Linked DNA regions of Homo sapiens: region 2 is linked to region 1. Evidence: fine-mapped expression QTL. A gene starts in region 1. The other region holds a variant in brackets. All regions are shown on one strand. Distances are between the middles of the regions. Region 1 holds the start of RAB1B (RAB1B, member RAS oncogene family). Region 2 overlaps PACS1 (phosphofurin acidic cluster sorting protein 1).

Evidence for each region.
Region 2: its variant is fine-mapped to the expression of RAB1B in whole blood (TOPMed, PIP 0.96).

Annotation. Positions count from the first base shown.
Region 1 is chr11:66,267,578-66,270,445 of GRCh38, reverse strand. RAB1B (RAB1B, member RAS oncogene family) reads right to left here and starts at 1,807. Exons shown (of 6, transcript NM_030981.3): 1 at 1,753-1,807. The coding sequence starts at 1,766. KLC2 (kinesin light chain 2) reads right to left here. Exons shown (of 16, transcript NM_001318734.2): 16 at 2,586-2,868. It overlaps KLC2-AS2 (KLC2 antisense RNA 2), which reads left to right and starts at 2,035. Exons shown (of 3, transcript NR_186342.1): 1 at 2,035-2,147; 2 at 2,238-2,391; 3 at 2,615-2,868. RefSeq lists enhancers at 707-1,588, 1,749-2,078, 2,199-2,248, 2,549-2,598 and a silencer at 2,709-2,868.
Region 2 is chr11:66,154,778-66,157,686 of GRCh38, reverse strand. The region is part of intron 1 of PACS1 (phosphofurin acidic cluster sorting protein 1); the gene reads right to left. Among named protein-coding and RNA genes, the nearest start is that of PACS1, 86 kb to the right of the region's middle. The variant C/T (reference allele first, on the strand shown) is at 1,195.

The sequences.
Region 1 (2,868 bases):
CCACCATGACTAGCTAATTTTTGTATTTTTAGTAGAGACGGGATTTCACCATGTTGGCCAGGATGGTCTCGATCTCCTGACCTCGTGATCCACCCACCTCGGCCTCCCAAAGTCCTGGGATTACAGGCCTGAGCCACCGCACCCGGCTAACCCCATCTCTTTGGAGACAACAACAACAACAACAACAACAACAACAACAACAACAACAACAAAAACCTGTTATGAAGTCACCAGGAAGAGGTGGTCAAGTTGCAGTGAAAATTGCACTTAAGGCTGGGTGCAGTGACTGACACCTGTAATCCCAACACTTTGGAAGCCCGAGGCACGAGAATCATTTAAGCCCAGGAGTTTGAGATCAGGCTGGGAAACATATCGAGACCCTGTCTTTACAAAAAATTAAAAAATGTGCCAGGTGTGGTGGTGTGCCTCTGTATTCCCAGCTACTCAGGAGGACAAGGCAGGAGGACTGCTTCAGCCCAAGAGTTGGAGACTGCAGTGAGCCATCGTCACGCCACTGCACTCCAGCCTGGGTGACAGAGAGAGACCCTGTCTCAAAATAAAAAAAAAAAAAGGCAAAAGGTAATCACATTTAATATACTTGAGTTCCAACCTGTGGACGGACCCTGTGTGAAGTACTTTAAATGCATCATCTCATTTAATCTTCACAACAGTTCAATGAAGTCAGTTTTGTCATTGTCAACTAATGAGGAAACCAGAGGCCAGAGAAGGGAAGTGACTTGCCCTAACTTACACAGTTTATCGCTTTAAGACTCAAACCAGGTTTCTCAGACTCCAAAGTCCCTTCGAGAGCCTGCTGGTTCCCTTCTCTGTTCCCCTCCCAATCCAGCTCAGAGCTTCACCCTTCCCCAAGGAAATCTGAGACCTGGATGTGGAGTAGAAAAAGGAAGTGGCAGAAAAGGAAGAAGATAACTGATACTTGGGGAAAACTATTAGTCCTGGGCATGAGATGTGGGCCACCTACCCGCAGGGGGAGTGACCAAGAGTGAGGAGAGTTTGAGGACCAGAGAATCCCACAGGAAGGGGGAGAGCAAATTCCATATTCATCTAAACTTCACAGGCAGTGTGACAGCCAAGGGAAGGGGTGTGACGGTGGCGTTGGGGGCCTGAGCAAAAGCGAGGAGAGGGCGGGAAAGGACGGACCGGCGGGAGCGACAGGACAGCGCGACCCAGGCAAAGGGTAGGAGGCAGCCCCGGAAGAGAGGACCTGCGGGAGACGCGACCCAAGCGGCGCTTCGGGGCCTCCCGCGTAGTTGGCTAGCTTCTGGGCCGGCCCCAGGAGCCGGGCTTCAGGAGAAAGAGAAGGGTAGAGGGATTCACTGCCCGACCTAAAGGGCCCAAGCCTGAACCCGAGACCAGAAACTATCAAGACGGGCTCCAAAACTCCGGGACAGTTGTCAAGCAGCAGGTGGGGAAACTGAGGCCTGAAGTGACCGGGACTGCGGGGTCATCTGACCGATAAGGCCTGGTAGGACCGATGTCTCGAGCTCCAAGAGCTGCCCCTGGGGGTCGCCACGTCTGGGCCCCGGGTGCGAGGGCTCGGGGTTTTGAGCCGGGGTCCTGGGGCCCCTGGGGGGAGGGGCAGAACCCGGATGTGGGGGGGGGTCAGCGGAAGAGGGACCCGGATGTGGGGGCGCCGCACAGTCCTGACCCGGGCCAGACAACCCCGGTAAGCGTACAGCCCTGTATTCGGGATCGAGGCTGCGCTGGACGGCGCGGGCGGGGCTCACTCACTATTCGGGGTTCATGGCGGCGGCGGCGGCCCGCTCGGTCGCTCCCAGTCGACTCTGCTCCGCCTCCCGTTCCAAGATGGTGGCCGCTCCGCCCCAGAGGCCCCGCCCGCGACGCGCAGGCGCAAACGTCTTCTTCTCAGGCCTCGCCGCGCTGATTCCCGGAACTTGTAGTCTAAGACGTTCTCCAACTCAGCCCCGCTGCGCAGGCGTAGTCGGGGAGCCCGCGCCTCCGCGCCCACTCCCATCACTGCTGGCGCATTGCCTTCTGGGGCTTGTAGTTTGCACTCCGGACGCACTCAGGCTTGAGGACAGTGCTGGAAAGCCTGACCGCGACTCGGTGTTTAGAAAGCTCAATTTAGGGCTGGGCTTGGCACGTTTCACATCTGTCTGACGGAGGTAGTCATCCTTGCCCTCCCAATACCCACGTTGTGAACATTAAATGAGAATGTGGGTTCTAGTAAGACTAATAAAAGTACATTTGTCCAGGGTTCTTCGTGTACTGGGCAGTCCTAACTCGCAGCCGCGCGTCATCACCCGCATTTCATAGATGAAAAAACTGAGTCTCGGGAAACTCACTCAAGGTCAAAAACTTTGTGAGGAGCAGAGCTCATAAGAGCCCGCGGTCTCCAGAACCCCACAAGTGAGTGTTTTAGGGAAAGCCTGACTTGTGGGCCCCTCACGCAATTCCGGGGTGGGGCACAATATCTGGGCCCAGCTGCGCGGACAGCGGTTGAGCGAGACACACTGTCCCCCACTCACGCACGACCCTTCCCGGCTCCACCCCAGTCTAGAGACGCTGGGGGCCCCCGACCTCCGTCTCAAAACAAGCCCAGCTCAGATTTAAACCGTCTTTATTTCTACAGCAACATCTGAAAATATGAGAGCAGCCGCCTCACCCGCAACAGGGGGAGCCCCTCCTGCCACCAGGGGACCGTCGCCGCCCCTCGCGAGAAGCTGCAGGCGTGGGGGGAGGCGAGGCAGGATGGCTCGGTGGGCGGTGCCCGGGGCGGGGTCGGCCGTGCCTGGGCGGGGCCGGGTGGGAGGGGCAGTGCATAAGGCCGGGATGCGGGGCAGGGCCCGGCGGTGGGAGGACGGACTAAGGGGAGGTCCCCGTCCT
Region 2 (2,909 bases), 110 kb after region 1:
AGACAGGAAGGTAGGTGGAAAGATCTGGCTGAATATGCAGACTTCAACTTGATCTACTATTTTGGGTAAGAAACCTGCCTCCCACCCTCATTTATAACAGGGTTTCCCCAGGTTAGACTTTGACACACATATTCTTTGGGGATGGGGATCTGGGGTGCTAACTCTTCCACATTCAGACTTTCAACTCATTTTCCTGTTTTCAGCCCCAGTGTATATCCTATATTCACAGGTACCTAAAACTTATCTCAGAACATGGCCCACATGTGGCTGAAAACAGGATTGCTTCCTGTTAGCTTCCTCCACTGCAAATACTTAGTGGAGCAGATGAAGTTGAAACCTAAATGACTCATCATATATGCACCTACATTTCAGTTTTCAAAATTTTGTAGGGAAAAATTCTGGCCCACTGTGATCTCCTCTCCCAATCTCTTCATCCTTATAGATTTGTAACTTTTTTAAAAGAAAATTCCTTTACTGTCATTTTAGTGGGGTTGGGGAGGGAGGAAATATAATCCATCTCATTTCTCCATCTTTTCTAAAAGTCTCTCCTGACCCTGAAGACATCTGTTCATTTGTCATTGGTCACAACTTGGTAACATGTACCATCCTACGTAATTGAGGGGAGACAAAATTATCAAACAAAGCAAAATGACCAGAACTTGGGGTCAGAACATTCTTCCTAGAAGAACATCACCACAAAGAAGAATCTGATACCTGAACAAGAAAGAGGTTCTGGGAAAGAGAATAAACAACCTAAAGTATAATCATCACCTAGAGAGTGAATACTGAATAGCTGCCTTTATTAAACCATGGAAAGATTTTTTTTTTTTTTTCGAGACAGAGTCTCGCTCTGTCGCCCAGGCTGGAGTGCAGTGGCGCCATCTCGGCTCGCGCAAGCTCCGCCTCCCAGGTTCACGCCATTCTCCTGCCTCAGCCTCCCGAGTAGCTGGGATTATAGGTGCCCACCACCACGCCCGGGTAATTTTTTGTATCTTTAGTAGAAACAGGGTTTCACCGTGTTAGCCAGGATGGTCTCGATCTCCTGACCTTGTGATCCGCCTGCCTCGGCCTCCCAAAGTGCTGGGATTACAGACATGAGCCACCATGCCCAGCCGGAAAGATTTTTTTAAAAAACAACTTTAGGCCAGGTGCAGTGGCTCACGCCTGCAATCCCAGCACTTTGAGAGGCCAAGA[C/T]GGATGGATCACTTAAGGCCAGGAGTTCAAGACCAGCCTGGCCAACATGGTGAAACCCCATCTCTACTAAAAACACAAAAATTAGCTGGGCGTGGTGGTACATGCCTGTAATCCCAGCTGCGGAAAGCAGGAGAATGGCTTGAACCCGGGGGGCAGAAGTTGCAGTGAGCCGAGATCACACACCACTGCACTCCAGCCTGGGGGACAGAGCAAGACTCTGTCTTAAAAAAAAAAAAACTATATATATATATATATATATATATATATATATATATATATATATATATAATTTAAAAAATGAAACAACTTTGTGGAGGATATAATTTACAGACAATAAACAAAATTTACATACAATATACCAGTGGAAACACCCCCACAATAAAGACACTGAGCATTTCCATCACCCTTGAAAGTTCCTTTACGCCTCTTTGCAATCTTCCCTCCACCCAAGCCCCAGGCAATCACTCCTTTATTTTATTGTCACTATCCACTGGTTTGCACCTTTGAGACTTTTATATAAATATACAGCATGTACACCTCTGGGTCTGGCTTCTTTCACAAAGCATGTTTTTGAGCCAGATCCATGCTGTCTAGAGCTCCTTTTTCCTGCTCAGAGCTCTCATTGGACTGGGACAGCACAGTTTGTTCATCCATTCACCTGATGAGCCCCCGGATTGTTTCCAGCCTTTGGCCGTCATGAATACGCTGCTACAAACACTCATGGAGAAGCCTCTGCGTTTTCATTCCTCTCAGATAAATATCTAGGCATGGAATTACTGTATCCTTGAGTAACTGTTGTTTAACTTTAAAACAAACTACTGTTCTCTAAACTAGTACTACTTTACATTCTCAACAGAGGATATGAAAGTTCTGCTTGTGCCACATCCTTGCCAACACCTGGAGCTATCAGTCTCTTAAATTTTAGCCATACGTAGAGGGTAAAGAGCGGTAGTTCATTATGGCTGGAAATTGCTTTTCTCTGATAATTAATAATATGAAGTATTTTATGTAGCTCCTGGCCACTGTTTTATCTTACCTTGTGAAGTATACTTTGAAATCTTTTGTGCATTTAAAAAATGGGGTTACTATTACTGAACTGTAAGAGTTCTTTACAATCCTTTGTCAGATTTATCTATTGTAAACATTTTATCCCATATTGTACATTTTCTTCATTCCTTTCTGAAAAAGCACATTTCAATTTTGATAAAGTCCAATTTAGCATTCATTTATTTTATGGTATGTGCTTTTTGTATCCTACTTAGAAAATCTTTTCACACCCAGAAGTCACATGAACGTTTTCCCCTATAATTTTTCCAGAAGCTTTATAGTTTTAACTCGTTTAGGACTTTGGTCCGTTTTGAGCTTTCTGGGCAGTGTATAAGGTATGGGTTAATGTTTGTTTTCTTCCACACAGATATTTAGTTGCTGCTGTACCATGTGTTGAAAAGATGTTCCTTTCCCCATTGAATTGCCTCAGGACCTTTGCTGCAAATCAATTGTCTATTTACGTGTGGATCTCTTTCTGGATTCCATCTTCTCATTTATGTACATGTCTATTATTTTGCCAGTATCACAGCCTTGCGGTGCTGTAGAAGTCAGTCCTCAATTTTTGCTGGCTTTGCCAGTTTTAAGTACTTTGCATTCCATACACATTCTAGAACCAGCTTTTCAATTTCTACAACAAAAATACGCAGAAATTTTGATTGAGAATGTAT